Linked DNA regions of Homo sapiens: region 1 is linked to region 2. The links come from fine-mapping of genetic effects on gene expression. A gene starts in region 2. The other region holds a variant in brackets. All regions are shown on one strand. Distances are between the middles of the regions.

Region 1 (11,242 bases), 34 kb before region 2:
TGATACTTTTTCTTCCCTGTCACCATTCTAGTGCAACACTGTGAAGTTAAAAAAAAAAAACAAAACTAGATATGTAAATCAGTTTCTTTCCTGACAAAAATCTTACTCGTATCCACCAGCAAAACTATTGGTGTCCTCCTCATTCCATAGTCAGAAAAACAGCCATACCTAGAATTTAAACAGCTGGTCCAAGGTTACTCCGAATATAACTAAAGAGATAAAATTCTCCCAACAAAGTTCCCGCTTTAGCTAAGAGCAAGAAGGAATAACGGCAATGCCCTAAGTTGGGTTTCTAAGATGCGATCAAAGAAGTGAACAGTTAGAAAAGAGTTTACCTGAGACCTAAGATCAGATCCTGTACCATACACCAACTTTTCATATTCCAACTCTGGACTTTAAACTGAACCAAAAGTATTTCCTCAAATTATCCTCAATTCTTCTGCACCCTCTGCTTTAAACTTATTCTACTCCCCATTCATCCATAGCCTACTGTTGCTATGCATCGTCTTCCATGCTACCTTGGTTAACTCACATTTTTGCTGTGGTCCATAGTCATTCTGGGCTTGGGTTGCCGTAGGCAACTCTAACATGGAATAAATAACACTGTCAGTCATCTTCAGCTAAGATCTTTCACATGCAGTTGAGAGAGTTAAATTATAGAAGTGTGAAGGGATATGTATCAGTGAGGAAACAGCCCAATCTCTAAACTGCTAGCAGGAAACTTCACAAAAGCAGAAGTAATTTTTCAGGAAATGATTCAAATTTGGGGGCTGCCTATAGAAATTAATATTGTAAGTTGCTATTTTTTTGCCCCATGACACTGTAGATGCTCACTAAATATATATTAAATTGATTCCCCATCTCACCTAATTCTGTTGAGCAAGGAAAAATTGCTCTCAAGTCCAGCAATTTCAGTTATGGAAACTAAAATAAAAGTGAGAGTGGTTACTAGCTATGAATTTCTCTCGGAATTTTTTCTCTGCTTTGTTTCCTTCTGAAAAAGTAGATGTATGCCAAATGAGACTGACTTCATCATTTCTTGGAACTTTTGGGCAGTGATAAGCAATAACGAAATGGACTGTTGGGTGCATATGCCTGGAATCACGGGAGAAATAGACTATTACCCAGATATATTTTGTGAATATGACATGACCACATCTTCCCCAAAACCTTGTCCAAATTGTGTGATGGTCTTTACCCTTCACAGTATCAGAAATTCCATTATATTTTTTCTCTTTGTTGTCTTATTTTTTTTATTATTATACTTCATGCAAAGATAACTAAAAAGAAGAGCAAAGTAAACAAATACATTCTAACATCTTAGTAATTTGTTTTTAGTAGGTGAAAAGTTAATAAAAAGTTAGAGTAGGCCAGGTGTGGTGGCTCACGCCTGTAATCCCAGCACTTTGGGAGGCCAAGGAGGGTGGATCACCTGAGGTCAGGAATTCAAGACCAGCCTGGCCAACATGGTGAAACCCCGTCTCTACTAAAAATACAAAAAAATTAGCTGGGTGTGGTGGTGGGGGCTGTAATCTCAGCTGCTCAGGAGGCTGAGGCAGGAGAATGGCTTGAAACCGGGAGGCGGAGGTTGCAGCGAGCCGAGACTGCACCATTGTACTCTATCTAGCCTGGGCAACAAGAGTGAAACTCCGTCTAAAAAAAACAAAAGTTAAAGTAAGGAAACAGAAAGAGTATTGAAACTCTTAAGAGTGGATAAGATCATCAAGATAGACTGCATAAGGATAAAAGAAGAGAAACAGGGAGTGCTTTATATTAATTTGTTTTATATTAATAAAAACAAATATATTTCTGCTTCCAGCCATGACAGAATGGCATTAGACTTACTCTCCAATCAAAATACAACACATGGCAAGACACACAAGGCAGCTATTTTCAGGAACACACAGGCAGCATTGTGATCCTTGAGAGAATACAAAGGTGAGTGCAATGATCACCCTAGCTTTCTATCTAGGACCACTTTCTAGTACAGAGCACAAAAATGAATCCTAAACAGAACAGCAGTCTTACTAAAATGAGGAGGCAGATATTGGAGTTTTGAGCTGCTTAAATGGCTGGAATTTGCAGGGCAGGATAATTCACAAGAGAGAGGCACCCTTAAGACTGTAGGAATTCACTGTATGTCTGTGGCCAAGTTCTAGGCTGCGCAGACATAGGACAAAACTCTGCAAGTCCAAGCTGAGATAGTTCCTGCAGGGCCAAGAGCTGAACAGAAAGGACAGAGGTGATGCATTGCTTAGTAGCACCAACCAAAAACAGAGCAAAACTTAACATTGCCAAAAAGAGTCATCAATAGTTTAGCTGCCTCTGAGAACAAATTTTCACGCCCTTAATATGAAGGCAAAACAAACAAAATGTGGTCTACACATACAATGGAATATTAGTCTTAGAAAGGAAATCCTGTCATACTTTATAACACTGATGAACCTTGAAAACATTATACTAAGTGAAATGAACTGATCACAAAATGACAAATACTGTGTGATTCCACTTATATGAGGAATCTAAAGTAGTCAAACCCATAGACAAAGAAAGAAGAATGGTTACTGAAAGAAGTTTGGAGGGAAAAAGAAAAGGAAGTTGCTTAATGGGTACAGGGTTTCAGTTTTGCAGTGTGATTAAGTTCTGGAGATACGGTACACAACAATGTGAATATTCTTGTATTCACTTGCTTGGACTATCACAACAAAATACCATAGACTAGGTGACTTAAACAACAGAAATTTATTTATATTTTCATCATTCCACAGACTGAAAGTCTAAGATCAAGATGCCAGCAGAGTTGGTGTTTGGAGAGTGCTTCCCCTGTGGGTTGCAGACTTCTCACTATATCCTCAAGTGGCTTTTCCTCAGTGTGTGCACAAGGGAAGAAAGAGAGAGGGCTCTGGTCTCTCTTCTTACAAGAACATTAATCCTATCAGATCAGGGCCCCACCCTTGTAACCTGATTTAACCTTAATTACTTCCTTAAACACTCCATCTCCAAATACAGTCACACTGAGGATTAGGGCTTCAATATGTGAATCTGGGGGAGACAAACATTCAGTCCATAATAATACTTAACACTACTGAATTGTATGCTTTAAAATAATTAAGATCATTTTTTAAAAAAAGGAAGGTGTATTAGTCCATTCTTGCACTGCTATAAAGAAATACCTGAGGCCAAATAATTGATAAAGAAAAGAGGTTTAATTGGCTCACAGTTCTGCAAGATGTACAGGAAGCATAGTGGCATCTGCTTCTGGGCAGGCCTCAGGAAACTTAGTCATGGTGGAAGGCAAAGGGAAATGTCTTACATGGCCAGAGCAGGAGCAAGAGAGACGCGGGGAGGTGTTACACACTTTTAAACAACCAGGTCTTGTGAGGAACTCTATCAGGAGAACAGCTCTAGGGGTATGGTACTAAACCATTCATGAAAAACCATCCGCGTGATCCAATCACCTCCCACCAGGCCCCATCTCCAACACTGGAGATTACAATTCAACGTCAGATTTGGGTGGGGATGCAGATCCAAACCACATCAGAAGGCAACATAGGAATCAGGGGCTCTTTGAAGAAATGGCTAATTCTAGGGCCAGGACAGGGAAAGTACAAAATAAGCTTGGAGGATCTTCCAGTCTTTTAATGTTAAAAAATAAGCAAGTTAAAAAAAAAAAGATGGGAGCATATCAGGACACAGAAACCAACCTGGAAAAGCTCCCAATGGAACAATATGAACAACAAAATAAATGACAGTGTTGAATTATAACACAAGGGGAAAAACTATATAAATCCATACTGATTTAAATAAATAAATAGGTGAGAAGTGACAAATCTTGCTTACAGAAAATACCAAATAATATATGTAGATACTCCCCATTCAGGATGTGGAATTTAACTCTCCTCCCTTTGAGGGTAGTCAGGGATAAGAGACTCACTTCCAAAGAGTACACTATGGATAAAAGGAAATAGTAACTATTCATTAAAGAATCTTGGCAAATACCACCTCAACCACATGAACAGGGTTCACTGCGTGAACCACCAGTGATGAGTCTTGTTGATATCATGTACCCCCTAATATGATGCAATGATAAAAGCACCTAACCAGTAAGGTTTGTTCCCCAAAATCCATAACCCCAGGGTGGTATTATACATATGTATATATTGGTTTTCATCCACAGTTTCTGGCTCCTAACTCCTATGGTCCCTGTTACAGTCCTTTCTTATAATGTTGAGTGTGTCAGGCCCCAAGGGGAAGGCCTCTGGCCTTCTTCTGCCCTCCTTTCATCTGCCTCAAGGCAGGACTCTAATTTTCCCCTGCCTTTCTGATTGTGGGTCTTAAAACCTTCCCCAGAGAGGGTCCTGCCCTTTACTGGGGTGACAAGGGGAGGGGGTCAGCAGCAAGAATGCTGATGTCCTGAAGCTTCCATAAAAACCCAAGAGAACTGTGTCAGAATGCTTCCAGATGACTGAACCTGTGGAGATTCCTGGAGAGCAGCCTTCCCAGAGAGGGCATGGAAGCTCCACACCCCTTTCCCCATACCCTGCCCTACAGTTCTCTTCATCTGTATCTTTTGTAATATACTTTATAATAAACTGATAAACATAAGGGTTTCCCTGAGTTCTGTGAGCTGCTCCAGCAAATTAACTGAACTCAAAGGGGAAGTTGTGGAAATCCCAACTTGAAGCTTATTGGTCAGATGTTCCAGAGGCCCAGACTTGTGACTGGTGTCTGTGGGTGTAGGGGGTGATCTTGCATATTGAATCCCTGAAATGTAAGATCTAACACTATCTCCAGGTAGATAATGTCGGAATTGAATTAGAGGATACCCAGTTGGTGTCTGCTAATTGGTATGTGGGGAACACCCCTACCACATTTGGTCACACAAGTCTTCTTCTGTGTTGATAATTGTGGTAGTGCTGGTGTGAAAGCAGAAGAAAAACACAGCTGAAGAAAGTTTTCCCCTACACATCCAATGTAAACATGCAAAAAAAAAATCAGATAATTCTAAATTGAGTGGTACTCTACTAAATATCTGACCAATACTCTTAAAATATATCAAGTTCACGAAAAAAAAAAAACACTGAGAAACTGTCATAGACCAGAGGAAAACAATAAATATAACAACTAGATGTAATGTGGTATCCTGGATTGGATCTTGGAACAGCAAAAAGAGCATTAGTGGAAAACTGGTAAAATTCAAACAATGTAGCAATATTCATTTCTTACATTTGAGAAATGTGCCATGATTTTTTAAGATGCTAACATTAGGGGAAATGGGGTGAAAGGTATAAAGAAATGTTCTGTGCTATCTTAAAAACATTTCTGTAAATCTGAAATTATTCCCCAATAAAACTTTTCTTCAAAAAAGAGGATACATAACACAGATTAGCCATAATGCATCACATTTAATATCTAGCATACAATAAAATATTATTAGAATCCAAAGAAATAAGAATATATGGGCCATGGATCAAAGAAAAGTCAGTAAGTAGAAAAGAAACTTATGTAACATAGATGCTGGAACTAGCAAACAAGGACTTTAATATCTGCATAAATACGTTCAAAGACTTAGAAGAAAATATAGTCATAATGAATAAAAATTTGAAGAATCTCAGAGAAGTAGAAACTACCAAAAAGAATCAAGTGACTATTCCAGAACAGAACAGCATTCATAATTTTTAAAAATAACTGAATGAGGGCCAGGCACGGTGGCTCACAGCTGTAATCCAGCATTTTGGGAGGCGGGGGCAGGTGGATAATTTGAGGTCAGGAGTTCAAGACCAGCCTGGCCAACATGGTGAAACCCTGTCTCTACTAAAAACATAAAATATTAGCCTGGCCAACATGGTGAAACCCTGTCTCTACTAAAAATATAAAACATTAGCCTGGCCTGGCGGCACATGCCTATAGTCCCAGCTGCTCAGGAGGCTGAGGCAGGAGAATCACTTGAACCCAGGAGGCAGAGGTTGCAGTGAACTGAGATTGCACTACGGCACTCCAGCCTAGGTGACAGAGCGAGACTCCATCTCAATAATAATAATAATAATAGCTGAATGAGATTAATAGCAAATAGAAGAGGGCAGATAAAAAGGTCAGTAAACATGAAGACAGATTGCTAAAAATAATCCAATATGAAGAATAGAGGGAAAAAATGGGAGAAAAAAATGAACAGAACCTCAGTGACCTATGAACAATGCCAAATAGTATAACAAAAGTGAAACTGTAGTCCCCCAAAATAAAGGGGACATATAATGAAATCGGAAAGGAATTTGAAAAAGTAATGATCAAATATTCCCCAAATTTGGGATACAACCTACAGGTATAAGAAACTCACTGAATCCGCATCAAGATAAACAGAAGGAAAATCACTCCTAAGAACATAATCTAAAACTAATAAAAACCAAAGATAAAAAGAAAATACTGAAAACAGCCAGAGGAAAATAAATAACACATTAATAATGGGAAACAACACATGAATGATAGCTAAATTCTCAACAGAAACAAAAAAGGAGAAAAGCAATGAGATGTCATCTTTAAAATGGTAAAATGGGCCAGGCACGGCGGTTCACGGCTGTAATCCCACCACTTTAGGAGACCAAGGCACATGGATCACCTGAGCTCACCAGTTCGAGACCAGCCTGGCCAACATGGTGAAACCCCGTCTCTACTAAAAATACAAAAATTAGCTAGGTGTGGTGGCAGGCGCCTGTAATCTCAGGTACTCTGGAGGCTGAAGCAGGAGAATCGCTTGAACCCAGGAGGCCGAGGTTGCAGTGAGCTGAGATTGCACCATTACACTCCAGCCTGGGCAACAAGAGCGAAACTCTGTCTCAAAAAAAAAAAAAAAAAAAAAAGGTAAAATGGTAAGACTGCCAATACAGAATTCTATATCCAGAAAAAGTATCCAATAGAAATGAAGAGGAAGTAAAAATATTTTCAGAGCAGAGAAAATAGCAAATTTGTCATGAGCAGTCCAGCACTACAAGAAATGCTAAAAGAAGTTCTTAGAAAATAAGTATCACTAGATAAAAACATAGATATACAGAAAACATTGAAGAGCAACAGAAATGGTAAATATATAAGTACATATAAAGAATTATATTTATTTTCTTTTCCCATCTTAATTTCTTTAAAAAAAACAGAAAGTAAAACAGATAAGGCAAATCATTTTAAAAAACAGCAAAATGATAAAGCCAGTCTTATCAATAATTGAATTCATCATAAATGGACTGCTGCACCAAATAAATGGCACAAATTGTAAGACTAGAAGAAAAAGCAAGAACCAAAAAGATATTGTCTGTTCTGGCTAGGCATGGTGGCTCACACCTGTAATCCCAGAACTTTGGGAGGCTGAGGCGGGCAAATCACCTGAGGTCATGAGTTCAAGGCCAGCCTGGCCAACATGGTGAAACGCTATCTCTACTAAAAATACAAAAAATAGCCAGGCGTGGTGGCAGGTGCCTGTAATCCCAGCTGTTTGGGAGGCTGAGGCAGGAGAATTGCTTGAACCCAAAAGGTGGAGGTTGCAGTGAGCCAAGATCGCACCATTGCACTCCAGCCTGGACAACAAGAATGAAACTCCATCTCAAAAAAAAAAAAAAAAAAGATATTGTCTGTTCTGGCTGTAAGATATGCACTTTAAATATAATGACAGATTAAAAGAAAGGTATACAAATATATACAATGTGCAAACCAATATACACATTACAGTAAGCACCTGGAGTGGTGTGTTAGTTTCTTATCACTGCTGTAACACA[T/C]AACCTAACACAAACTTAGTGACTTAACATAACATATATTTATTTTCTTAAAGTTTTGTAGGTCAGAAGTCCAAAATCAAGGTTTTGGCAGAACTGATTTCCTTCTGGGAAAGTCAAGGAAATGTTCTCCTCTAAAGCCTCCAGAAGGAAATCAGTTTTGCCAAATTTCAAATTTCTTGGCTTGTGGATTCTTCTGCCACCTTTGAAGTATATAATTCCAACCTCTGCTTTTATTGTTACAACTCTGTTTTCTGACTTTGACTCTACTGCTTCCCTCTTATAAGGACTCTCATAATTACCTTGAACCCACGTGAACAAACCAGCATGATCTCTCCATCTCAAGATTATTAGCTTAATCCTATCTACAAAGTATCTGTCATATAAGGTAACATAATTATAGGCTGAAGGGATTAGGGTGTTAACATATTTGAGGTGGGGAGAGACATTATTCAGCCTTCCACAAGTGGTCATACTAATATAAGACAAAAATAGGTGAGTATAAAGAGGTACATTTCATAATTACATGAGTTACTGATTGCATCAAGCATATATAACAACTATAAATAAGTATGCACCTAATTTTGAGCTTCAAAACATATGAACAGAAGCAAAAGCTGAGTTAAAGAAAAATAAACATCAATAATCATAGTTGGATATTTTAAAAACCTTTTCTCAGTAACTGATAAAACTATTAAACAAAATTCAGTAATAATATAAAAAACCTCAACACCACCATCAACCACCTTGACCAAATTAAATTAACCCAACAAAATGACATTCACCAATTAAAGAATACACGTTTTTAGGTGTAAATAAAATGTTCGCAAAGATATATTACATACTCAGCCATAATATAATACATTACAAAATATTAAAATCTTACAGATATATTTTATAACCACAGTGAAATCAATAACAAGAAAAAATCGACATAATTCCTAAATATTCGGAAATTAAAATACCCACTTTGAAGAATAACCCATGGGTAAAAGAAAAAAATAATTTTAAACGTTAAAATATTTTAAATTAAATGATTATGAAAATAGAATACAAAAATATATAGAACACAGCTAAAACAGTCTTACAGCAAATACTGTAGTTTTAAATGAATGGAAAAGAAAAAAATTAATAAATAATCCAAGTTTATAATTTATGAGGGTTAAAAAAAGAAGAGTAAATTAAAACCAATGTAAGTAGAAGAAAAGACAGAATTTTAAAATGGAAAATTAATAAAATCATGAAACAAAGACTAGAAAAATTAACAAAGCCAAAATTTGGTTCTTTGACAAGATTAAGACTGATAAACTTCTAATAAGATTGAGCAAGAGGACTAACACAGCAAGAGAGCAGACTAGGATGTACCAGTCCTTATATATCCACAAAAACAACAATTTAGCAATTATCCACAGATGAAAATAGCTCTGGGAGAGTTCTGGAGTGCAATTAAAAAGCTGCTGCAACTCAGTGAAACAGAAAAACTGAGGATGGTCATGCAGAAAAGTGTAGAAAGCATTTTACCTGTGTAACCCCATTCCCCAGGCTGGCAAAGCTCAAAGACAAGAGGAATACCATCAGCTGTGACTTCCTCACAAGGTGAAAAGGAGAGCAGGAAAACCCATGCAACCTGTGCCACTCAGGACTCTAGCAGCCATCCCCACTGCCACAAATACCCACAGCCTTAACTGCCAAGGACCCCCACAGTCTTCAAGAATGCTGACACCAGCCGATGGAGCTGCCCAGAACTCACACTGCTGCACCCCCTCCAAAGCTAGAGCCTCAGCCACACCCTCTGGAACCAGGATGAATGCTGCTTATTTACCCCAAGCCCAGCATTGCATGTGTGCACTCACCTATCAGACCCAATGCCATGACACACCCTTTAGAACTAGTGCCCATATGTGCCCCACAAGTCTCCAGTCCCATGCTGACCCAGTGCACCATGCACCTCACCCAGCCACTACCCTTGCAGGCAGTAAGAGGTGACTGCTGTTTCAAACGCATTGACACCACTGCAAGCCTATAAGGAACATAAAAAATTAAGAAAATATGACATCACCAAAAAACGCAATAGATTTCCAGTAACCAAACCCAAAGAAATGGAGATCTATGAATTGCCCGACAAAGAATTCAAAGTTAAAGTGTTTTAAAGAGGCTCAGTAAGCTAAAGATAACATAGATTGACAACTCAGTGATATCAGAAACAATATATTAACAAAACTAGAAGTTCAACAGAGAGATAGAAATCATTAAAAAACAAAAAAACAAAAAAAACAGGGCCAGGCATGGTGACTCACACCTGTAATCCCAGTAATCCCAGTAATCCCAGCACTTTGAGAGGCTGAGGTGGGCAGATCACCTGAGGTAAGGAATTTGAGACCAGCCTGGCTAACATGGTGAAACCCTGTCTCTACTAAAAATACAAAAATTAGCCAGGCATGGTGGCAGGCCCCTGTAATCCCAGCCACTTGGGAGGCTGAGGCAGGACAATCACTTAAACCTGGGAGGCAGAGGTTGCAGTGAGCCATGATCGCACTACTGCACTCCAGCCTGGGCAACAGAGCAAAACTCCAACTCAAACAAAAAACAAAAACAAAAAAAGCAGAAATTATAGAGCTGAAGAATACATGAGTAAAATAAAAAATACAATACAGAGCTTCAACAGCAGACTTGATCAAAAGAAGAAAGATTCAGCAACCTCAAACACAGGTTATTTGAAATTATCCAGTCAGAGGAGAAAAAAAAAGAATGAAAAAGAAAACCTCCAGGATTTGGGAGACATGAATGTGCAAGCCAATATACACATTATAGAAGTCCCACAAGGAGAATAGAGAAAGAAGCAGAAAACATATGTAACAAAGTAATAATTGAAAACTATCCAAATTGAGGGAAGAACATAGACATCCAGATTCAGGAATCCTAAAAGATTCCAAGTAGGTTAAACATAAAGAAGTCTACACCTAGACACATTATAATTAAATTGTTAAAGGTAAGACAAAGAGAATTTTTAAAGTAGCACAATAAAAATGACTCATCACATATAAGACTATCAGTAGATTTCTCAGCAGAAACCTTATATGCCAGGAGGATGGGATGATATATTCAAAGCACTGAAAGAGAAAACAGCTAAACCAAGAATACTATACTTGGAAAAATTATCTTTTAAAAATGAAGGACAGGCCAGGTGCAGTGTCTCACACCTGTAATCCCAGCATTTTGGGAGACTGAGGCAGATGGATCACCTGAGGTCAGGAGTTCAAGGCCAGCCTGGCCAACATGGTGAAACACTGTCTCTACTAAAAATACAAAGAAAATTAACCAGGCATGGTGATGGGCATCTGTAATCCCAGCTACTCAGGAGGCTGAGGCAGGAGAATTGCTTGAATCCAGGAGGCACAGGCTGCAGTGAGCTGACATTGCACCATTGCACTCCAGTCTGGGTGACAGAGCAAGATATGTCTAAAAAAAAAAAAAAAAGACAGGCCAGG
Region 2 (17,703 bases):
CCCCAGATACAAGACTCTGGGGCAGTAAGCAACTTATATAACAAAAACAAGCTAAGTAATGGCGGGTCATTGTTCAACTATGTCTATTCTTCAGCAAAGTTCAAGCCCCTACCATAATTTTAACTTTGTTTTATGAATGTGGTTTTAACTGTAAACTAAATTCCTCTTATAGTTATCTTGGCCCCCACATTAGAATGGACAAAAAAACAATTTAACTTGAGAGGTTGGAAGCAAGATGGAGTCAACCATATTAGACTTCTCTCATTACTTATAGTTCTGCAAAGGTGGTTTCATATTCATGAATTATAAGACTCAACATTAAGATGTCAATTTTCCCCAAATTTATCTACAGATTCATATCAACCCCAATTGTAACCCCAGCAGGATTTTTTTTTTTTTTTGATACAGGGTATCACTCTGTTGTCCAGGCTGGAGTGCAGTGGTGCAACCACGGCTCTCTGAAGCCTTGACCTCCTGGGCTCAAGCGATCCTCCCACTTTAGCCTCCCAAGTAGCTGGGACCATAGGCACAAGCCACCACGCTCAGCTAATTCTTAGGTTTTTTTGTAGAGACAGAGTCTCACCATGTTGCCCAAGCTGGTTTGAAATCCTGAGCCCAAGTGATCCTCCCATCTCAGCCTCCCAAAGTGCTGAGATTACACACGTGAGCCACTATGCCTTGCCCCAGCAGGATTTTTTAACAGAAATTGACAGGTTGCTTTTAAAGTGTATATGGAAATGCAAAGGACCTAGAATAGCCAAAACAATCTTGAAAAGAGAAGAAAGACTTATAATACCTTTCTTCAAGACTTAATATAAAACTAGAAGAATCAGGAGTGTGTTATTAGCTTAATAATAAAGATATCAACTAAACAGAATTAAGTCCAGAAACAGAACTACATTTATACAATCAACTGATTCTCAACAAAGCTCTGACGCAATTAAGAGAGGAAAAATAGTCAAACAATGTTATAGGAAGTCATTATATATCCATATGGGGAAAAAAAGGAACCTCAGTGCTACCTCAACTATACACAAAAATTAACTCAAAATAGATCACAGACCGGGCACACTGGTTCATGCTTGTAATCCCAACACTTTGGGAGGCCATGTTGGGAGAAGAGCTTGAGGCCAGGAGTTTGAGACCAGCCTGGGTACTATAGCAAGAGCCTGTCTCTAAAAAAATTTAAAAATAAATTACAGACATAAACATAAAACTATAAGGCTTCTTAGAAGAAAATACAGATAGAACCCAAACGCCCATCAAAAGGGAATGAATAAGATGAGAAATACGATAGTTCCCCACCCTTATCTGCAGGTGTGCTTTCTACAATTTCAGTTACCAGTAGTCAACCGAGGTCTGAAAATATCAGATGAAAAATTCCAGAAATAAACTACTCATAAGTTTTACATTGCATGCTGTTCTGAGTACTGTGATAAAATCTTGCACTGTCCTGCTCCATCCCACCTGGGACATAAATCACCCCTTCATCCAGTGGAAACACGCTGGGGACACTCCCTGCCCGTTAGTGTCCCTCTCAGTTATCAGATTGACTGCCACAGTACTGCAGTGCAAGTAACTCTTATTTTACTTAATAATGGCCACAAAGCGCAAGAGTAGTAATGCTGGCTATGCAGACATGCCAAAGAGAAGTGTAAAGTGCTTCCTTTAAATAAAAAGGTGAAGGTTCTTGACTTACTAAAAAAAAACAAAAAACAAAAAAACAAAACAAAACAAACAAACAAACAAAAAACAAAACAAGTATTCCGAGGTTGCTAACATCTATGGTAAGAATAAATCCTCTATCTGTTAAATTGTGAAGAAGGGAAAAGAATGTGTGCTAGTTTTGCTGTTGCAACTCAAACTGCAGAAGTTACTGCCATGGGCCACGGTAAGTGCTTCGTTAAGACAGAAAAGGCATTAAATTTGTGGGTGGAAGATATGAACAGAAACATATTCTCATTGAAGGCAACTGGGTTAGATGCTGTCTACAGCAGGGGCCTTGGAACATGTCCCCTGAGGAGAAGGGAGGGCTACTGTATTCATAAAATGTAATACTACCCCACCAAAACACAAAACAAAACCTACTACTGATACATACAAGTTCACAGATATTACAGTGAAAGAAATCAAACAAATGCAAAAGGAACATGCTATTGACACAGGATTTTTTGGTGGTGTTCCACAGCCAGAGACCTCCACGGCCGGGGGGGCCCTGCTCAAGATCAAGATTCACTCGTGACCACTGGGCTGGCTCCACCCACTGGGCTTGGCAGGCTGTGCTTGGCTCTTGGCTAGCGGTACTGGCCCAGATCTCACACCCACCAAGGGCAAGCCAGGTATGCTAGCTGCTACAGCAGGGCATCACCTCCAGGCACCAGCTTCATGTGAAGCTGTGGCTGGATCAGGTATACTGCAAGCAGCTTCTGCCTTGGGCACTGGCATATGAACGAAGGGAACGCAGTGGCGTCCAAAAAACTCAAAAGACACCAGCAACTGCGGAACTTCAAAGGTCAGGTGCAGTGGCTCATGCCGGTAATCCCCACACTTTGGGAGCCTGAGGTGGGAGAATTACGTGAGGTCAGGAGTTCGAGACCAGCCGGGCCAACGTGGCGAAACCCCATCTCTACTAAAAATACAACAAATTAGCCGGAAGTCGTGGCAGGCACCTGTAATCTCAGTTACTCAGGAGGCTGAGGCAGGAGAATCACTTGAACCTGGGAGGCAGTAAGTTGCAGTGAGCCAAGATCACACCACTGCACTCCAGTCTGGGTGATAGAGTGAGACTCTGTCTCAAAAGAAAAAGAAAAAAAAATGCGGTGGGGGGTGTTACAGCATGTTACAGCTCTGGCTTGGGGAATCCCGAGGTCTGCACCCCGAAGAGTCTCAGCTCGTTTGTGTTACAGTTCATTCATTCCTGCTGTCCACAAGCTTTGCCGAACGGGGGCATGTCCCAACTTGTTCAGTCCCACCAGCCCACGGCTCCTGGGCTGGCCTGGCGCCACCACCACTTCCCATAACGTGGGGTGGCCGCCTGGTGCCAGGAGAGGGCAGGAGGGCTACAGCCTTTCACCTGCTGTTCTTTTGCACCCGCTGTTCGGCAGGTCCCGAGTTCTTGTCCTGCGTCCAAGAAGAATGAGGTTACACTGACAATTGCAGAGTAACCAAGGCAGAGAGGACGTTTATTCAGCAACAGAACAGCTCCCAGCAGAGAGGGGACCCAAAGGTGGTAGTCCCACTGTGTAGCTGAGTCCGGGAGTTTTTATGGGCTCAGAATGGGGGAGTGTGTGCTGATTGGTCCATAGGCAGCCTGGAAAAAGCACCATTTGATTGGCTAAAAGGCATTGCGGGAGTTCTCACTTGGGTCTTAGATTCTACCCAGAACTGGCAGGTGAGTTTTCAGGCTTCCGGCGGTCTTTGACTCGAAGGTTGGTTTTCACCAGGGACCCGCCCGTATCTACCTAGGAATTTGTCTGCTTCCCACCACTATCAGTATCTGTCCATTTATACTAAGTTCTAAAATAGGCAAAATTAATCTATAATTTAAAAAAAAGAAAAATTCAAAAGACCAGGCTTGATGGCTCATGCCTGTAATCTCAGCACTTCGGGAGGCTGAGGTGGAAAGATTACTCAAACCCAGGAATTCAAGACCAGCTCGGGGAAAATAAGGAAACCTCATCTCTACAAAAAATAAAAAAAAATTATCCTAGCATGGTAGCACACTCCTGTGGTCCCACCTACTCCACAGGCTAGCTGGGAGGATCATTTGAGCCTGGGAGGTCGAAGCTGCAGTGAGCCATGTTTGCACCATCGCACTCCAGCCTGAGTGATAGAGACTCTATCTCAAAAAAAAAAAAAAAAAAAAAAAAAAAAAAAAAAAAATCAGAGCAATAGTTGCCTCTAGGACTAGGAGAAGATGACTGGATAGGAGCATGAGGAAATTTTCTTGGATGATGAAAATCTTCTAAATTTTTTGATTACAGATAACAGTTATGATGCATTTGTCAAAATAAATTGAATTGTATCCTTAAGAGTTGTATATTTCGGCCAGGTGCAGTGGCTCACGCCTGTAATCCCAGCACTTTGGGAGGCCGAGGTGGGCGGCACAAGGTCAGGAGTTCGAGACCAGCCTGGCCAACATGGTGAAACCCCATCTCTACTAAAAATATAAAAATTAGCCAGACATGATGGCAGGCGCCTGTAGTTCCAGCTACTCGGGAGGCTGAGGCAGAAGAATAGCTTGAACCCAGAAGGCAGAGGTTGCAGTGAGCCAAGATCGCACCATTGCACTCCAGCCTGGGCAAGAGATCGAGACTCCGCCTCAAAAAAAAAAGAAAAAAAAGAGTTGTACATTTCATGACTTATATATTTTGCCTTAACAAGAGAAACCAGAACTTTAAACAAATATGGAACTCTTACTAGTAGGCTTGCTTCACACATCGTATGGCTTATCAGTTAAAAAATCACTTCCTGTGTTTTCTTATATGTGAATAAATGTATACATACAATGAATATAATGGGAACTTGGTTCACTCTTGGAAATAAACAATTTCCTAGCTCTGTCTGCTGACACTGAAGCAGTGACACACAAGTAGCAACAAACACAACTCGTAATCACATCTTGGTTTTTCAATACCATTTTCCACTAAAAGAACCAAGACCCCTTGGTGAAATGACTGATTCTAGGATAAGGGTAAGAGAACCACAAAACTTTTTAAAAATATACATTTGAGGCATACAAGATATTTTGATTGATACACATATACATAGTGAAGTGATTACTTCAGTCAAGCAAATTAACATATTCATCATCTCATGTAGTTATTTTTTTTTTGGTGGTAAGAGTACCTAAAATCTACTCTCCTGGCAAAGTACCAGTATACAATACAATATTAACTATAGTCCTTATGTTACACACTAGAACATTAGAATCTAACCGCAACTTCGTACCTTTTGACCTACATCTTCCCATTTCCCCTACCCCGCCCCTGGTAACCATCTTCCTACACTGTTTCTATGGTGATTTTTTTCAAGACTCCACATACAACCGATATCATATCATATTTTTCTTTCTGTGTGTGTCTTATTTCACTCAGCATGATGTCCTCCAGGTCCATTCATGCTGAATGCTACAAGATAAAATCGGAACATCTTATGTGCCTGAAAGTAAAGAATTCCTCAAAAAATCATATGGACATGTCAAAAGGATAAAGGAGGCACCACTAAAAGGCTCCCACTGGCTGCTCAACAGAGGCCCACACCCTCCCGCAACTTCTCGGCCTCATCAGTGGGTGGACTGCATGTTCCTGTGGTAGGAAACACACCCTCCCCTCAGAGATCTGAATCTCTAATCTTGCAGGTGGGGAAGGGAGCATTTCCTTTAACTTAAGTAACTCCTTTATTAACTCTTCTTCAGCCCTAGAAGTAACAGCTCCTTTTCGTAGCTGCTTCTTCTGTATCATAGAGTCCTCTTTTAGTAACTGATCATCTTTTACTAGAAAATAATTCTTTAAATTTTTCCTGTTAAAATCGCCAATATGATATCTGTTTCTGAATGGACCCTGATTGATATAAAAACGTATCACTTCCCTTGCATTTCTATCCAAAAAAAATGCAAACTTAAATATAATCATGAGGAAATGATAGCCGCAGGAGGCAGACAAATGCCTAGGCAGATCCCCAGTGAAACCCCATCTCCAAGCTGAAGACAGTTTAAAGCCTGAAAGCCAAGCTACAAGTCAAATCCATGGACCGGATTAAAAACCTGTCTTCCCATTTGGCACATTTTTCTTTGATTGATCCCCACCTTTCACCCATTTTATATACACCTACCCTTTCCTAATTGGTTTTCTACACTGTCGTGCCCACCTTTGAGTGGTGTCTTCACTTTAACTGTTTTTGCATACTCACAAACCAATCAGCACACACTTTCCATTCTGAATCCATAAATGCCCAGACCTAGCCACATTGGGTGAGAAACCACCTGACTGCAGGGGTGGGGGACCACCTCCACCTACCACATCCCCTCTCCGCTGAGAGCTGTTCCATCGCTCAATAAAATTCTTCTCCATCCTTCTCATCCTTCAAATTGTCAGCATATCCTCATTCTTCTTGGATGTGGGACAAGAGTTCAGGAACCACCGAATGCAGATACAAACTATAACACAGGCAGCAGGTCAAGTGAGGCCTGGGGGTTTTGCGGGGGGGGGGTGTCACTAGCTATGGACGGGTCCCTGGTTGGCAAAGTGACCGAGAAAAATCCTACATCAGATATATCAAACAAAACCAAAATGAAAGACATTCTACAAAACAAGTGGCCAGTACCTATCAAAATTTCAAAGTCAAGTAAGATCAATGACAACTAATTACAATGTGTGACTCTGGCTTGGCTCCTGTGATTGTTGGGAAATCGGAAGTAACTATACATAGCATCTATTGAAACGTGATAAAATTTTGAATACAGACTATGGATTTGGTAATATTGTATTAATACTGTAGTTCCTGATTTTGATGAGAGGATGTCCTTGTTTCTAGGAAATACACACTGATATATTTAATGGTAATGGAAGTTTACTCTCAACCTGTTCAAAATAAACTAATGTATATGGAGGGGAAAAAGATGAATTTAGGTAAAATGTGTACCAGAGTTCTTTGTATTATCCTTGCATCTTCTCTATAAATGATAAATATATTAAAATTGAAAGTTACCAAAAACTATATTTAGTCCTTGAAATATGGAAAACATGATCATTTTGAAAAGCATCTGAGCCGGGCTCAGTGGCTCACACCTGTAATCCCAGCATTTTGGGAGGCTGAGGCAGGCAGATTATTTGAGTTTAGGAGTTCAAGACAAGCCTGGGCAAAAATGTGAGACCCTGTCTCTACAAAAAATACAAAGATTAGCTGGGCATGGTGGCTTGCGCCTGTGGTCCCAGCTACTTGGGAAGCTGAGGTTCTAGGACTGTTAATTACCTTCCTCTCTTATGATTATACAGAACAGGAGGCATCCTTCCCATTTGATTTCAGACCAACAATCCTAGAACTGCTTTCTAAACAAGGTGAACAATTTACCTTGTGTGAGAGAAGGCAGTGTGGGTGTAGGTTTATTGTGGGGAGTGTGCTTGTTAATAATGAGGCTAAGAAAGGAGGCAGGCCAGAAATGCAAACAAACAAACAAAAAAAAATTCTGCTCATTTCAATTTTTGCCCCAGCAAGAACCTTGAGCTCAGTTCTCAGAGGTGAGAATTCTAACACAGAAAGCACCCAGAAAGGGCACTGAGGTCTGAGAAGCAAGGAAGTGACCCAGGTTGTTTGCCTCTGGTCGGAAAGGGAAACTACCCCTGCTTCCACTCTGACAGCAGACAAGTTAATCAACCTACTCAATTGCATTTTTGGCCCATTCCCCATTTCCAACATGAACAGTTCCTCCCCTCCAGCCCAATGCCACTCTAGGCAGTCACCAAGAGGTAAGATTTCTGAAATCAAAACTTGAATTAACCAACAAAGGAACATCAATTCTAGAACGGATTGTAACAGGGATTTTTGTCTTTTTTCTCTGCTGTATCCCCAAGATCTATATTATATATTCTGTGGTTTTGGCACATAGTAATTGCTCAGTAAAGCTGTGTTGAGTTACTTGATAAAAAATAAGTCAGTAGAAATAACTTAAATGCTCAACATTAATGTCATTGGTTAAGTAGCAATGCATAGAACTAAATATTATGCTATTAAAAAGTTTATTTGTAAAGTCAAGGATATGGAAAAATATTTGATACATACATATCTTTTTGAGATAGGTTCTCACTCTATCACCAAGGCTGGAGGGTAGTGGCAAGACCATAGCTCACTGCAGCCTCCAACTCCCAGGCTCAAGCAATCTTCCAGCCTCAGGCTCCCAAGCAGCTGGGACTACAGGTGTGCACCACCAAGCCCAGCTGATTTTTTTTTTTGAAAGAAGGGGTCTCACTATGTTGCCCAGGCTAGTCTTGAATTCCTGACCTCAAGTGATCCTTCTGCCCCGGAATCCCAAAGTGCTGGGATTACGGGCATGAGCCACAGTGTGGGACTGATACATTTTTGAAAAAAGGAAACAACATATATTCATGAAGGAAATACACACCCTCCTGGTGAGTTTATGTATGATTTTTGTTTTGTTGTTTTCTGTGTTATCTGATCACAAATTACTTTCATTTTCAGGAAGAAAAAAATTTAATTTTTTTTTTTATTGGGGCAACATCCAACCCAGATATGATTACTACCTAGCCTGAACTGAATGTATTACTAATAAACAAAGAAATGCAGAATGGCATACAGTCGGTAAAGCGTAGTGCTTGAGAGCATGGATTATGGAGACTATTTAAATACTGGCTCCATAACTTAATAGCTTGGGACCCACGGTGTTACTTAGCTTCTATCTGCTTTAATTTACTCATCTGTAAACTTGGGATAAGATACTTCCTCATAAGGTTGGTGTGAAGACCAAGTGAATTAACTATCGTTTAAAGCACTTACAAAAGTGCCGGGCACCACCGAGATATGCATCCGTTAGCTTTTATTATTATTAGACTCAAAACACTGTAGTAGTTCTAATGAGAGGGGTAAGAATCAAAAATCCAGGCACCTGCATAGAGCCAGAGAGGCACACATAGAAGCAACGTAAGAGTGGAAGCGGAATGAAAACATGCTAAAGCCAGGTACAAGCCACAAGCGAGGGTCCACAGGAAGAAATTGTTAATTCTGAAGAGAGTGAATGCACGAAGTTACAGGAAAAATAACATCTGAACAGAGTTTAAGAATGAGCAGGACTTCAACAAGTGGCTAGTAAGACATAAGGAACCTACAAAAGATCTTAGCAAAGGCGCAAAGATTACCATCGTATTGCTCGTTTCTTCCTACTTTGCAGAAGTAACCTCTGGCGAACAGAGGTGGTTGCAGAGCATGCTTATCAAGCAAAATACCACGAAGCAGTAAGGAACGACAGAGATAACAGTAACAATAATAATTCACCCCAAGGTACTCAACTGGAAAAAGGAAATACAGAGGAGAGGTGTCGTTAAGAAAGCCAGGACGCACATCACGGCCCCGTCGCTGCACTACTCTCGTCTAGGGGTCAACAGTGGAGTCGAGACTCGAAGCTTCCACGCGGCGGAACAGCGTCCCTCTCAGGCGGCGAACGGGCTAGGGAAGCGCCCGGAGGAGACCTAGCGTGAGAACTACAACTCCCGCGGAGCCCGAGGGCGAGCTGCCTGCGTAACTTCCGCTTCCGCCACCTGCCCCTCTCACCCTCTTCACTCGAACCCTACCCGGGAGCGGTCAGGCGCGTGACCCCGCGTGACCGGGGTGCGCGAGCCGAGAGGCCCTGGAAGCGGGACTCTGGGACCCCATTGAAAGAAAGGCAACCAGAAAAGGCGAAACGACAACCTCGATAGTGATTGGAGCTGATGGAACGAGGGCGGAGCTAAAGTCCCAGAATACTGGCCAATCAGAGTTTAAGATTATCAGGGAGCCCGGGAAGGGGAAAGGGGCGAAATGGTTCTATGGTCACATGCCGCGGGGTCTGGTGGGAGGAGCGGTTGCCCAGCGGCCTCTTGGCGCTTCCTGTTTCCGGTTCCCAGAGTGGGGCACAGCGAGGCGCTAGGGGGAACGCTGGCCTCTGAAACTAGCTCTGGGACCGGGGTCTGCGGCCGGCCCCTAGCTGGCCCCGTCTCCCATCCCCAGAAGGGTATTCACTGGGGATTCTGAGCTTTGGCTACTCCAGTTTCCCACGACACGTGAGTGTGAGGGGCGTGGAGGAGGAGGCGGGCTGGGTTGCGCTCACACTTAAGCGTCTGTGACAGGAGCCGGAATCGCATTCTCCCTTGACCATGGTTCTAGCCAAAGATCTGGCTGAGGAGCCCTAAGGGTAGAATGGAGGCGGAGGCATGAGAGCGGAGAGTCACGGAGTTCCGAAAGGTGTGAGGGAGAAAGGACTTCCAAGACCAGAGAGGGGATTTACGATATTTAGAAAGCAGGGAAAGGAAAATACCCCAAGTATGGAGTCCGTTGGAGGTGTTGGTGGATTTATTTGTAGGAGGAATTTTGGCCTGCATCACGGTGGGAGGTCAAGTGGCATCATTTGGAGAGGGTATGGCTACAAGCGCTTGGAAAGTCGGGACACTAGACAGAGCGAGAATTTCTGGCACCCTGGGAGAGCTTTGAGGGGGATGCGACTGTGGTGTGGATAAGAATGGCTGATGGACGGATTATCTTGTGTTCCTCGTTGTGGGGAGCTTCCGCTCTTGGGACATAGCCGCTACTTGTCTGAGGCTCCTTCTCTCTTGAGTTCTTTCAGCATTAGGCCTTTTAGCCAATTGAGGCTGCTTTTCTAAACATGTAGGCTGCTGGAGAAAAAGGGATAAGGACTGCTACATCAGAAAGGAGCCAGCGGGAAGACAGTAGAAATTCCACTGGTAAATGGCCATGGCTGTCTTAACAGATGGGGAAGTGAGTGCTACAGAGGCCCAGTGGTGTAAGCTGCTTCCCAGTTGCTGGCTTAGTCATTGGCCACCCTAATAAAGGATAATTTTTAGCATTGCCAAATAAAATAGATCTGTCGTTAGAGAATAAGAAAACTGAAAGATTTTTCAAGATCATAAAATCCTGCTCCTTATTTCCAAAGTATATAGACAAACTCTTGTACCTTGAGAATCTAATTGTAGCATATTAAAAGGGGGCTACTGGGCCCTTCCATTTCATTCTCTTCCTGATTGTTGCACCCCTATGTTTATAAGTTTTCCAGCAGTTATCTTTATGCCACGAATCGTCTAAATTGCCCCAGTAACTTCACACACATTTAATATCTGTGTAATGTACAGCAAGTAATTTAACAAGTAATTCTGTAAAGCATCAGTTTTCTCATCTGTGAAGTATGAAAAATTATACCTATTTTCTGGGTTGTGAAGATGAATGAACATAATCTAGGGAAAACATTTAGCGCATATGCCACTGAATTAAAGAGAAGCAGCTTAAATTTAAAGACAAGCCTTAAGCAGGAAAGAAGAATACAGTATAAATTTATTATCCTAACTTTTTGAATAATAAGCAAATGAAAGATAGTTCAACTCAGCTAATGGCTGAGGTGTTTAACCTTTCATCCCTTCCTAATTTTGTGAGATTCCTTGTTCTAATTTAGGAAAAGAAATCAACTGTCAGTTTTTAATTAGGTCCTGAGAGACTGGAAAGGAAAATGGCAGGCTAAGTCAGTCTAGAAGAAGGAGTCTCCTATTTCTTTTTAGTGAGTCAGCTGGTCAAGTTGTGTGTTGAGCAGTGGGTTAACTTAGGGAAGGTGGGAGTTGGAGGTCTGAGTTCTTTATTTCACCTCCTATTCAGTCAACTGTGTGAGGAATCACTTCCCCTTCACTTCTTAGTAGAAAAAAAAAAAAACCCACAGTTTTGGCTGTCTACTCTCATCTCCAAAAAATTGTTATGCACATAGTGGAAATATACATGTAGTTGTTCAACACAGACCATGAGCTCTGGAGCTAGACTCTCTGGCTCACTCCACTAGCTGTGTCTCAGTTTTCTTACTGGTAAAATAGCAACAATAATTGTATTTACTCATAAGGTTGTGAGGATTAATTAGTTAATTAATATATGTTAAGTGCTTTGAACAGCACCTGGCCCAAGGCAGTAGTCTGTTGTTTCCTGCTGTTGTGTGGTTTCAGTGCATTAAATGTGTTATGAGGGCCTTGGACCTCTTGGTTAGCTATGATTATTCTATGGAAACTACCATAATATTACAGTAGAGAATTGATGTTTGGGGTACAGGAAGTCAGGTAGACAATTTCCCGGGATTTTTTGCTTTAGTGGGGTGTGGGAAGTGGAAGGTCAGATGTTAGGTTGTTTAGGGGAATGGGGAAAGTGCATTCACGGCCAAGGTTGGAGCTTCCATTTTCCCATCTTCAAACTCATTAGTACCCATGAAAATTCTGCCTGTTTCAAGTTTTATATTTTAAAAATGAGGTGGAGTAAGTGGACCCGCATGAAAAAGAACTAGAGAACTTTAAAGAATATTCAAACCAAAGTCCAGACTTGCAGCGTTTTTTGTAAGTGAGAAAAGTTTAGAAGAGTTAAATCAGGAAATTGTCCGTGATACTCTTGGAATAAACAAGTAGCAATGGCCTGAGGGATCATTAACAGATACCAGAGTAAAGTGTTTTGCAAGGGTAAGTCAGTCTGTCCTGGGTATGAAGATGGATAAGAGAAAAGAAAATGTTAGGTTTTGGTGGGGTTTTTTTGCCAAAACCACAATGACCTTTGCACCAGTCTAGTAAGTTTGGGAAAGAGAGCTGTCTGTGTGTTTTCATTCCTAGAGCAGTACAAGCAGCAGGTGCATTGAATTTACTCAATTGTAAAGTGGCTTGGTGATCCCCAATTTGTTGTCATTGATTTGTAGTGTAAAAGACAACTGTACTTATGGGAAGTCTAGAAACCCTTGAGATTTGTGACCTGTAGAGGCCAAAGAGGTTTCAGAAGACTACATCAAGCCATCAAACAGTAAAGAGGCAAGGATGGCTCCACCCAAGCTGTCATCATTCTTTTTTAAGTTCTTTCATTTCCCTCTTCCCAACTTTGTAGTTTGTTCTGAAAGACTCACCTATACATTAGACTACAAGTTACATATAAATGAATTTTCTGCTGCAGATGCTCTTGTTACAGAGATATTAAAATGTACTATGTGTTGCATATGCCAGAGAATCTTGTACTTTCTGGATAATTAAAATACCATCGATTTATTACACATTCATACGCTTTATCTCTTTCCTCTCTCTCCTGATCCTACCTGCCCTCCCCAACACACACTCTCTCCCAAAGGATGTTCCCTTTCTACAGCTGCTGGAGGACTGGACTGCTACTACTACTCCTGGCTGTGGCAGTGAGAGAATCCTGGCAGACAGAAGAAAAAACTTGCGACTTGGTAGGAGAAAAGGGTAAAGAGTCAGAGAAAGAGTTGGCTCTAGTGAAGAGGCTGAAACCACTGTTTAATAAAAGGTAAATGAGAAGAACCTTAAAGAGCTTGAGAAAATATTTATGTTAAAGTCTTTTCTTCTTACTGATTTTATTTCATAATGTGCTCTCTTTTATGACATAGAGCAAATTCTCAGCCCAGTTTTTAGTTGCTGTGTGCAGTTTTCTCATCTTTCACAGAAGTGTAGCTATTTCCAAGACTGGATCCAAGAGACCAGCTTGTAGAAATTTAAGGATTATTTGACACCTACATATAATAGGACTTTAGAAATATCAGATAAACATATTTAGGCCGACACATGTCATTATAAGTGTCAGGAACCTTCAGATATATAAATCTGAAGTTGGTCCCTAAGAAACGAGACTATCCGATGAACATGGGCCCTTATTCATTGGAACATGGTTACTAACAGGCATTCTAAAAATAACTAGAATATTGAGCTATCAAGATAGCTCAAGTGTGTTTTAATAATTCATCATCAGCAATAAGGATGGTCTGTCAAGGTTATGAATATCTTAAAATTAAACAAATATTCACTCAGCCATGACCTCAAATAAATAAATCGAGCATGTTGTTTGTTTTGTTTTAATTAAGGAAAGGGATGCTGTTATTCCTGAGGCTGATAGCTAGTAACTCTCCTCTTCTTTCTTCCCACTTCTCTTTACAGCTTTGAGAGCACTGTGGGCCAGGGTTCAGACACATACATCTACATCTTCAGGGTGTGCCGGGAAGCTGGCAACCACACTTCTGGGGCAGGCCTGGTGCAAATCAACAAAAGTAATGGGAAGGAGACAGTGGTAGGGAGACTCAACGAGACTCACATCTTCAACGGAAGTAAGAAAACTCCCCTTCCTACCATCGATTGACTAACTGATCCCAAGTCAATCCCTCTGACAATCCTGTATGTCTTGGCCGTTTCTAGTGTCTTCAGCATATCATACGTGTGGTTCGGCACACCTGAGACTGTAATATACCACAGGATGCCTAATTCCACAGCTCCTCTGTAAGCCACAGCTCAGGACAGTTGTGCATTAAAATCAGTGAAAAACTTATGCAAAATGAAGACTCTAGCCAGAATTGTTTTGTTTTGTTTTGAGACGGAGTCTCTCTCTGTCACCCAGCCTGGAGTGCAGTGGCACAATCTCGGCTCACTGCAACCTCAGCCTCTTGGGTTCAAGCGATTCTCCAGCCTCAGCCTCCTGAGTAGCTGGGACTACAGGTGTGTGCCATCATGCCCAGCTAATTTTTGTATTTTTAGCAGAGACAGGGTTTCACAATGTTGGCCATGATGGTCTTGATCTTTGACCTCGTGATCTGCCCACCTTGGCCTCCCAAGGTGCTGGGATTACAGGCATGAACCACCGCGCCCAGCCAACTCTAGCCAGAATTCTGTAGCCTAGAGTCCTTTTATTCACCCAAATACTTTTAATGAGTTTCACACTAGACTTACAAATACCAACCACCACCACCACTTTTCATCAAATTAATCAAAGTTTACCAGTTAAATTTTAAGAGCTCAAACTTTTTTTTGCAAACTACTCAGTCTGCAAAACTTTACCCACTGATTTTTGTGCTATGGTGGTGATATTTCTTAAAAGTCATATTGCTGGAGAGGACCATGTAAGCACCTATGGTCCAATTCCCTCCCATACAGATAAATAAGTTATACAAGGTAGCTATTTACTCCTGGTAAATAATACAATAAAAAAGTAACAAAAGGGTTTGGGGCTGGGGATCATGTGACCAGGTTCTCCTCCTGTTTCCTAATCCTGTGACTGGAAAGTCGTATCACCTTTTGACCTTGTTTTCTCATATGCAAAACTAGGAGCAGAATCTTTACCTTATTCACCTCACAATTACTGAATCAAATGATATTTTGCAAAAGAACTGAACACAGTAAATACTAAAGAAGAGATATGCATTCCAATCTTAGATATCCACTCTGAATTTATCTGGGGCTAAGTTGAAATCTTAGATGGGCTTACCCCTGCTGCTCAGCAATTGTATGGAACCTCTTTTTTTGCTTTTAGAAGGTATTCAGAAAATGAATCAGTGTTAAGGTATGGATCATAATTGGTTTTGCATTGTCAGTTGCCTACCTTTAATGTTAAAAATTAAGATTATTCTTAAATGAATATCTGATTCTTGTCTTAAGGGAACACAAGTCTTTGTAAGCAAACAAGTTTAGCTTGGCATTTCTGGTATACCAAGTTCGTACTGATGAGGGTTGTTTAGTTATAACCAATTGCAATGAATTACGCAATTCCACTCTGCCATACCACCCAGATCTGCCTCTGCTTTTCCCCCACCCCATAGCTCCATTTTCCTTGTCCCTCCTCAGGTAATTGGATCATGCTGATCTATAAAGGGGGTGATGAATATGACAACCACTGTGGCAAGGAGCAGCGTCGTGCAGTGGTGATGATCTCCTGCAATCGACACACCCTAGCGGTGAGGCACCCTGTGTTGTATAAGCCGAGGGAGGAGACTGAAAGGACTGACCTGAGGTTGGGGAGAATATCCAGAGGGGACACGATACGTTGGGATGGACATTAGAAAACTAGGAGCTCAGTTTCTCTCTGTGTCAGACACGCATCTTCCATGGAAAATAGGCTGCTGAACCAGGAAGGAGCAGATGTTTTTTGGGTTTTTTATTTTGTTGGACAGGAGTCAAAACACTTAACCACCTGAATGTGTTATGCCATCTCATCATCAGGACAATTTTAACCCTGTGTCTGAGGAGCGTGGCAAAGTCCAAGATTGTTTCTACCTCTTTGAGATGGATAGCAGCCTGGCCTGTTCACCAGAGATCTCCCACCTCAGTGTGGGTTCCATCTTACTTGTCACGTGAGTATGCCTTCCTTTATCAGAACAGACCTTCCTTCCTTTTGTTTTTAAGGTCAGTAACTATATGGTGGTACATAAGCACAAATTGTATGTGTACATTATGCTGTAATTGATGGGGATAACTTTTTAAATCCTCTGGCTATAAAATAATTCTGCCAGGACACAGGGCTCACGCCTGTAATCCCAGCACTTTGGGAAGCCAAGGCAGATGGATCACCTAAGGTCAGGAGTTTGAGACCAACCTGACCAACATGATGAAACTCCGTCTCTACTAAAAATACAAAATTAGCCAGCACAGTGGCACATGCCTGTAATCCCAGCTACTTGGGAGGCTGAGGCAGTAGAATCACTTGAACCTGGGAGGTGGAGGTTGCAGTGAGCTGAGGTCGCACCACTGCACTCCAGCCTGGGCAACAAGGGCAAAACTCCGTCTAAAAAAAAAAAAAAAAAAAATTCTGACTGCAAGTTTTTGAAAAATGAGATTTAATGTTTAGTTGCCGGTATAGATTTGCATTTGGAGGTGCTTTTTTCCCCTACTGCAGGACTAGGCAATTTTTATATTATTTCATTAGATTATGAGAACTTCTAGAGAAATGGAATCATATACTTAATGGTGATTATTCTTGGCCATAGAATCACACGCTGTCACATTTTGTCTGGGCCTTTGCTTCTCTTGGACTGACAGCACTCTAACTGGTTTTCTAAGAGTTACCAGCCCCCTTTTTCATTTAGTATCACTACTCATTTTTCCTTTTCAGGGAATGTATCTTAGGAAACAGCTGACAATAAATGCAGAGGTTATCCTATCTGAGTTTTTACTATTTCCCAGTTCTTAAGTATAGATGTCTTTCTCTCTCTACAGGTTTGCATCACTGGTTGCTGTTTATGTTGTTGGGGGGTTCCTATACCAGCGACTGGTAGTGGGAGCCAAAGGAATGGAGCAGTTTCCCCACTTAGCCTTCTGGCAGGATCTTGGCAACCTGGTAGCAGTAAGTAACAGGGCAGCTGGTTGAATTTGTAGCCTGCAAACAAGGTTGGGTGACCAACCATCCTCGTTTGTTCACACTGAGGGGGTTCCTGGGACACAGGACATTGAGTGCTAAAACCACAAAAGTCCCAGCAAACAAGACAGTTGCCCTAGTACAGAGTAGTAAGTGGCACAGCATCCATTTCTGGCCTTGGTAAGACATTGCTGAAAGAGCAACACTGTTGACCAGATGGGCTCTTCTAAATCTGATTTAGCTTTTAAGAGGGCCTGGGTGGGAAGAAGGTGAGGCCTAATAAGAAGAAACTTTTTCTCCTGTTGCCCCAAATTGAATTTAGGCTGATTGTCAGATCTTTTAGGTTTTCTCATTATCCCTATAGAAAACCAATTCTTGCCACATTCCTAGACCATAAGTACACTTTCTCATATCCTAAAGTTAGATGCTGCGAATTATTTCCTTCTTTTTTTTCCCCCTACAGGATGGCTGTGACTTTGTCTGCCGTTCTAAACCTCGAAATGTGCCTGCAGCATATCGTGGTGTGGGGGATGACCAGCTGGGGGAGGAGTCAGAAGAAAGGGATGACCATTTATTACCAATGTAGATTGCACTTTATATGTCCAGCCTCTTCCTCAGTCCCCCAAACCAAAGCTACACAGCCAGATTTCTCAAGCAGTCTCAACTCCAGTCCCTCATCTCACCCTTACTATTGCTCTTGCTTTCCAGTTTGCTTTTGATTTGCATCTTCTCACTAGTAAAACTGCCTTCCCTTTGTTCCTTATTTTCTGTTTTTTCTCTAGAGAGGTACAGTTGTAAGTCAGAGTTAATATAATAGGGCCTGTGAAAACAGAGGCTTTTGCATTGTCT

The links.
Region 1: its variant is fine-mapped to the expression of M6PR in whole blood (INTERVAL, PIP above 0.99).

What each region holds. Positions count from the first base shown.
Region 1 is chr12:8,979,008-8,990,249 of GRCh38, reverse strand. KLRG1 (killer cell lectin like receptor G1) reads right to left here and starts at 704. Exons shown (of 5, transcript NM_005810.4): 1 at 533-704. The coding sequence starts at 614. The variant T/C (reference allele first, on the strand shown) is at 7,758.
Region 2 is chr12:8,941,555-8,959,257 of GRCh38, reverse strand. It overlaps M6PR (mannose-6-phosphate receptor, cation dependent), which reads left to right and starts at 9,613. Exons shown (of 7, transcript NM_002355.4): 1 at 9,613-9,770; 2 at 12,853-13,029; 3 at 13,674-13,840; 4 at 15,348-15,457; 5 at 15,723-15,853; 6 at 16,716-16,842; 7 at 17,318-17,703. The coding sequence starts at 12,854. The coding sequence ends at 17,440. It also overlaps a transcript of KLRG1 not described here. RefSeq lists enhancers at 2,230-3,429, 8,911-9,040, 8,539-9,443, 9,444-10,349 and a silencer at 9,019-9,233.